Linked DNA regions of Homo sapiens. The protein of the gene in region 1 purifies or fractionates together with the protein of each later gene. This does not show direct contact. Each region holds a gene or a part of one and is shown in the gene's direction. Other genes may lie near its edges.

The links. The genes of interacting proteins can lie anywhere in the genome.
Region 2: the proteins of DCPS (region 1) and ASNS fractionate together in Homo sapiens (co-fractionation; 2 studies listed by BioGRID). This does not show direct contact.

The regions. Positions count from the first base shown.
Region 1 is NC_000011.10:126,334,960-126,338,709, forward strand, and holds part of DCPS (m7GpppX diphosphatase), read left to right. Parts: intron 1-3,326; coding exon 3,327-3,440; intron 3,441-3,750. UniProt on the Homo sapiens protein: Decapping scavenger enzyme that catalyzes the cleavage of a residual cap structure following the degradation of mRNAs by the 3'->5' exosome-mediated mRNA decay pathway.
Region 2 is NC_000007.14:97,851,743-97,855,492, reverse strand, and holds part of ASNS (asparagine synthetase [glutamine-hydrolyzing]), read left to right. Parts: intron 1-33; coding exon 34-140; intron 141-738; exon of another isoform or gene 739-812; coding exon 813-913; intron 914-2,106; coding exon 2,107-2,188; intron 2,189-2,277; coding exon 2,278-2,433; intron 2,434-3,024; coding exon 3,025-3,234; 3' UTR 3,235-3,750.

The DNA.
Region 1 (3,750 bases):
TGTAACTAATGGCTCCTCCCTCCTGGGTGTTGTGGAAATTGAGAGAGGTGCCATATATCATGTGCCTGCTATTGTTTCCAGCACAGAATGATGCCAGGATGGCAGCCACCATCCCCTACTCTAGGTAACTGTTCAGAGGGACAGGCACAGCAATGGGCAGAGCTAAGACACCTGGGAGACGTGGCCAGGCCACACATGGCTGGAGGGGAAGTGCAAGGCAGCAGGCAGAAGCAGAGAGCAGGAGGTGATGAGGAAGGAGCAAGATGTCTCACGGGAGGTCAAGGCGGGAGAGAGGGTACCGAGGGAGCTGCCAATGTCACCTACTGCAAAGAAGTCCAGCCAGGTGAGTTGCAGAAAGCTGATGGCATCACCCTCTGCCCAGTTTATCAGCAGGGCTGGCCAAGTTCTTGGGCATGGTTTCAGATGGTGGCACTCCCCATTACATAGCTCTCTGTGTTTGTGTGAATTTTGTTCTTTCATTCTCCTTTTTTTTTATCTGGGCCCCTGGCCTGGAGGCTTCCCGTGGATGCAGCTCCCTGCCACTGTCCCAGAGGCCTCTCCCAGGAGACAGGATGTACCTTGGCCCAGGGTGCAGGCTCAGGAGCCAGATACTCATGGTTGGAATTGGCTGACCCAGCGTGAACTTCCTTGCACTTGCATTCTTCTTAACTGTAAAATGGGGACAATGTCCAGGCGCGGTGGCTTATGCCTGTAATCCCAGCACTTTGGGCCAAGGTGGGCAGTTCACTTGAGGTCAGGAGTTTGAGACCAGCCTGGCCAACATGACGCAACCCATCTCTACTAAAAATACAAAAATTAGCTGGGTGTGGTGGCACACGCCTGTAATCCCAGCTTCTTGGGAGGCTGAGGCAGGAGAATCACTTGAACCTGGGAGGTGGAGGTTGCAGTGAGCTGAGATCACGCCATTGCATTCCAGCCAAGTGTGAAACTCCGTCTCAGAAAAAACAAAAAACAAAAACCAACAAAAAAACCTGTCTCTACTAAAAATATAAAAATTAGTCGGGTGTGGTGGTGGGCACCTATAATCCCAGCTACTGAGGCAAGAGAATCGCTTGAACCTGGGAGGCGGAGGTTGCAGTGAGCCGAAATCACGCCACTGCACTCTAGTCTGGGCGAAAGAGCAAGACTCCATCTCAAAAAAAAAAAAAAAAAAATGGCGACAATGATAGCAGCCACCTCTCAGGGTTGCTGTGACGCTGAGAGCAGTGCCAGGCAGAGTGCAGCTGCTCTCACAGTCATCACTCCTTCCTGCAGTCACTCGTCCTCCAGCCCCGCTCTTATTTCCTCTCTCACCACCTCCTTTGCTCTCACCGCCTTTCCCTCTTTTCCTGTCCCCAGTCAGTTTTGTAGCCTCTGGCATACCATCCCACCACCTTTGCCACTCGTGGGGGTCTCCCTTATACTGGCTGTGCTAGGTGCTTTCATGTGCGTGTTCTCTGAAAACCTTCACCACCCTTATGTAGATATCATCAGCCCCATTTTACAAAGGAGGCATCAGTCGCTCACCCAGTGACAGCTGGGAGATGAAACCAGGTCTCCTTGGCTCAGAACCTGTTCACTCTCACTCTTATACTAGTCACAGGCAGATGCCCCTTTTCTGTGAATCAGGGACTGGCCGTGGGGAGGCCTGCTTATGGGGTGCGTTGGGGCTGTCTGTAGGGAATGCCGTCTCCCTCCCTCCCTTGTATTTCCGCTGGCTTCCTCTGGCATCACATTCCCAGGAGATTTCAGGTCAGAGAGGAAATGCCTCTGTGGATGTACTGGCCATGCATTGCTCTGGCCCCGGCACTGCATGAGGAAGTGGCTGCCAGGTGTCCTCCAGACCCCTCCCAGGAAGGGGCCTCATTCGGTTTCTTGGGAACTGCCTGTCTTTTGTTGTGAATGGACCACATTGTGACCGGCCTGTGGGTCTTGTCAGGGGTTTGGGGCCCTCTGAGCTGAAATGCTTCCTGTGGGTAGAGAGTTGCAGGAGACCTCGAGGCCCAGCTGCCCTCTCCCCCGGTCCATCCCAGCTGAGAGGCGAGGATGCAATGCAGTGTGTTCAGCCCTCCAGGCTCAAGGTGTGAGGTTGTGTGGACCATAAGGCAGTCCCCGTGCCTCTAGCCTTCGGTGATGCTACCTGTCCAGCACTTCTGGGAGTGGAAGGAGGACCATGGATGGCTGCCTGGTAGTGTCGGTTCCCTGGCCTCCCCATCCCACCTCGTGTCCATGGCTCCTTCTCCTACATCAGTGAGCTCGGAGACCATTCTGACTGTGAGGAGGAAGGGGCAGTAGTATGTCCTCAGCCACTCCCCTCTCTGGTTTCCTAGCAGGTCTCTCCCCCAGATGTAGGGCAGAGTTCACTGTCCTGCATGAGTTCATGTTTGCAAAGGGCCCTGAGAGCCGGGGGAAGTAGAGGAGAGCTGGGGGTACTGGGGTTTGAGGCCTGTGAGCTCAGGGGCCTTCTCAGCCCAACCTCCTGCAGCCTCCTAACCTCAGACAGGCCTCCAGGACCATCTCTGTAAAGTAATGTCCTTGGGTCAACACAGGCCTGGGAAAGGTCCTCTGCAGACTGTTGACAGCAGCTGATCCAAGGGTGACACAAGGGCTGGGAGCCCTGGGTAGCCCTGAAAGGTCTTGGTGAGGTCACTGTCTCTGTGTCTCTACATAGCTTTCGTTTCTGCTTTGCCATGCGGGGTCTGTGTCAGCAGAGACTGCTGATAAACCGGCATCTGCAGCGGCTCCAGGCGGGCAGAGGTGCTGAGCCCACTGCTGATGAGAATCCCAGTGCGGCGGGAAACGTGCACACATGAGCTGCTAGAGGCAAAGGCTCTCACTGCTCTGGTGGGTAGCTGGCCCCTCCACAGAAGGAAACCGTGGTGCCCTCAGCCTCCTACCTCTCTTTGCCCCATAGTCCTGAATAGAGTGAAATAGGATCCATGGAGGCAGCTCTTCCCCTGAGTCCTGTGAGCGGTGGAGGGGGTCACTGCTATAGAGGGCAGACACAGCCTGGGTTTGGAGGCCTCCGCAGAGCATGTGCACTATGCTGACCAGGAAGAGCCTGGCCCCTTCCAAGCTGCAGAGACCCTTGTGATGACGCATGGCTGAGTGCCAGCTGGAGTGGGAAGGGGGAAGTCCCTTCTGGACCCCTAAGAACAGATGCTTGGGGACAGGGCAGCCCGGATGTAGATCCTCTGAGCGTGGCGGCCTTTTATGGCTTGGTTCTGTCTCCTGGAGAGGCCAGGGAATGCCCTGAGCTCAGTTTGGGGTATCTCTCAAGGGGTGATGAGTGGATTTGTGAACCATCTCTCTCCCCCTCCTTTCAGTGGGTGTATAACATTCTCGACAAGAAGGCTGAAGCGGACCGGATTGTTTTCGAGAACCCAGATCCCTCTGATGGTTTTGTCCTCATCCCTGACCTCAAGTGGAACCAACAGCAGGTAAAGGTTTCTGGCTGGAATGTCCTGATCTCTGGCCACCCTGCTGTAAGTGCTGGTCCTTCTGACTGCCCTCTTTCTCACGCTGGCCTGTCTCTAAGCAGATTATAATTAACCAACAAGGGTTGGCCTGAGCTCTCTGTGGGGACTGGGTGGATACCTGTCATACATAAGTGCTTTTGCTTTAATGGGTCAGCTTAAAGCCCTTTCTGGCTGTCCTCCCACCCAAGAGGTAAAATGGGGTGATGTTTGTGCCCATGACTACATAGGCCATTCCTTACCAGCCAAGTGGTCTGGGCAGCCACCTGTGCTT
Region 2 (3,750 bases), on another chromosome or scaffold:
GACATTAAAGTTAATTTCTCTCTCTCATTTAAGGTATGTATTTAATTTCCAAGTATATTCGGAAGAACACAGATAGCGTGGTGATCTTCTCTGGAGAAGGATCAGATGAACTTACGCAGGGTTACATATATTTTCACAAGGTAACCACTCTGAAGTGGAGGGATATTCATGCTATATTAAGAAAAGTATGAATTGTTTGACTATTTTCTATCATCTTTCAGTATGACAGTGATATTTTTGAGTATCTTGTGAGGTTACAAAAGGGAATCTGATAGTGTTTGCTTTCTATCTCTTGGGGAAGAAAGAAATTTTAATGTGTCAGATAATTTTTATTCTTTAAAACTAGTTACAGCTGGGTATGAGGGCTCATGCTCATACCCCCAGCTGCTGAGGAGGCTGAGGTGGGAGGATCACCTGAACCCAGGAGATTGAGGCTGCAGTGAGCTGTGATTGCACCACTGCACTCCTGCCTGGTTGACAGAGTAAGACCCCGTCTCTTAAAAAAAAAAAAAAAAAAGTTAAAAATAAATAAATAAAACTACTTAAGCTTGAGAATCCCCTTTCTGCCATTTCTTAGCATCCTGTGGAATTATGACTGTTGCCCATTGTGTTCATTTTATTCTAATATTAGCAGTTTGGTAGGAAGGAAGGCATGTTTTGTGAAGCATTGCTTACCTCTGTTCAGTTATTTACTCCCTTCCCTAAATTTGTTTAACTTTTTGTCTTATCCACCTTTAGGATTGGAGAGGGAGAAAGAAAAACTGCTTTGTGTGCCAAAAGCAAAACTCTTGGTGTTTTTGTTTGTGAAATAGGCTCCTTCTCCTGAAAAAGCCGAGGAGGAGAGTGAGAGGCTTCTGAGGGAACTCTATTTGTTTGATGTTCTCCGCGCAGATCGAACTACTGCTGCCCATGGGTAATATTTTTAGAGGCTATTGTAAAACAAAAACAAAAAAACACCAAAAACAAAACAAAACAAAAAGCTCAATACCCTGAGAAAATAAAAATCAATAGCTGATTGGCTATATGTTACATATAGTTGGCTATATGTTACAAAGTGTGACTTTTATAGAGAAAATGAAGCTGTTTCTTAACTTTGTCCCAAAAGGATTAGGCCACATTTCAAAGTGGTGTTGTGGTATATGGAGAGAAGTCTTCTTCCATAGGTTGTTTGAGGTGGAGTTTTCACCTTTAAAGGGTAACAACATTCTGCTCACATCTGAACAACCAAGATGGAAGAGGCAAGGCTGCTACAGCAGCTACCGTTAAGTGTTTTAAAGAGAAGTAAAGATCGTAAACATCATGTGACAAGTAGTGAGTGCCCACCATGCCCATGTGGTGCTGTAGTGACCCTGAGGGAATAGAGTAGTGAAGATACAAGGGGTTTGATTACATTATAAAGAACCAGGTTTCTTTGGTTATCATTTCTAGTTGTCTAAAGTTATGTTGAAGAACTGAAGACTTTTACTGTACAGGATAAACAACTGACATTAAATGTCTTAGTTGCCTCTGCTGAATCACACCTAGATAAGGATATAATTAAATATGGGTTTGAGGAATGAACTGAATCTGGTCATTATCCTCTCTGCTTGTCCTAACTAGAGTCACTAGGCTTCAGGAAACCGGTGATTTGGAATTTGATGAAATATAGTGGGACACTGGTTTATATCGCATATTGTATGTGAATTTTTAATCAGTGGCAAAAAAATACTGTATCGTCATCACAATTGTTAGAAGAGATGGTCTCACCTAGTAAACACTGAGTTAGGTCTAGGCAAGGTATTTTCTTAATGATTGGGTCACTCATGTTTTGTAACTTTTTCTGCTTTTTGAAATATGCATTTAACTATTCCTAGAAGGGAAAGTAAAAGTAATAGTCTCAGTTAGTTTTACTCCCTAGATGACATGATATATGTATTATTTTAAATGAAGATTTATTTTTTGTATCTATTCATTAGTGTAGGGCAGTCATTAGGAGGCTTGTATGTGACTGTATGACCTTAACATTTCTTAAGATCTGGTTGAATTGATGGGAAACTGAATCAGAACCTAACCTGGCAGGCACTAAATACCCATTTTAATTTAGATTTTCTTCTTTTCTCCTTTAAGTCTTGAACTGAGAGTCCCATTTCTAGATCATCGATTTTCTTCCTATTACTTGTCTCTGCCACCAGAAATGAGAATTCCAAAGGTAGGTAAATCAACTCAAGGTAAAACTGTCCATTGCCATCAGATTATATTTGTAATTTTTACCTGATGCTCCTTTTTTTGTCACGTCAGAATGGGATAGAAAAACATCTCCTGAGAGAGACGTTTGAGGATTCCAATCTGATACCCAAAGAGATTCTCTGGCGACCAAAAGAAGCCTTCAGTGATGGAATAACTTCAGTTAAGAATTCCTGGTTTAAGATTTTACAGGAATACGTTGAACATCAGGTATAATGTCTTTAAAAACATTTTCAGGAATAAGACAGTTTGGATGCAGAGCTGTCATTGCTGTTCATTTTGTATTTAGTTTGAATGATACATGTATTTAGTTTGAATGATACATGTATTTAGTTTGAATGATACATACATCAGATATCTCTCTGATAGGATGTCCCTATCAGAGAGATTCAGAGTCTCTGTAAACAATTATCTCTTTTGTAAGAATTACGTAAGAATTAAGTAGCATGAAGGATTATAAAGTAGCATCTAGAATCGAGAGAGAGAGGAGACTTACTACTAATCATCACTGATTTTCATTTATCAGATTTTTGGGCACCTGCTGGGTGCCAGATCTTGTTAGGCACAAATGACTAAAACAGAGCCACCAAGTATTAAAAATATGCATATGAGTGTTCTTTAAAAGGCACTGCAGCTATCCATATTATGAATACTTTAGCATTTTCTAAGTGATGGGTGATTCAAAGGGTCTCATACAAGTTACAGTCACGTCTTAACATTTTCTGTTTCGTGAAATGAGACTAAACACAAGTATTTCCTGCCATTTTAAGCCATTTTGCTCTTATATGCTTATTCTTACAGGTTGATGATGCAATGATGGCAAATGCAGCCCAGAAATTTCCCTTCAATACTCCTAAAACCAAAGAAGGATATTACTACCGTCAAGTCTTTGAACGCCATTACCCAGGCCGGGCTGACTGGCTGAGCCATTACTGGATGCCCAAGTGGATCAATGCCACTGACCCTTCTGCCCGCACGCTGACCCACTACAAGTCAGCTGTCAAAGCTTAGGTGGTCTTTATGCTGTAATGTGAAAGCAAATATTTCTTCGTGTTGGATGGGGACTGTGGGTAGATAGGGGAACAATGAGAGTCAACTCAGGCTAACTTGGGTGTGAAAAAAATAAAAGTCCTAAATCTAAACCATTGCTGTAGTCATTTATGTTCATGCAGTCTCTTCATAAGAGGTAACTAGAACTGTTTTGCTGTATCACAGTAAAGTGGAGGGTAAGCTAGGAAAAGGGAAAATGATCAGATGTCTGCAAGAACTCACAGCCCTCTCCTGGCAGAGCTGCTTTAGATGACATTTGCATCTTGTGCCCGTGTGGCTTCCTTCCAGTCCTTGCCTCATCTTAGGGACGTCATCAAAGGACTACACTATTTTTGTTCTGCCTACATTCCTAACAGCTGCCTAGGCAGACTCAGACTTGAATCTTCTATAGGAGTTCATCACAGCTCTATTTTGCAAGATAGTAGTTCATTTTTTTCTCTTTTATGTTGAGCCAAAGCCACTTCTGGAGACTTGTCC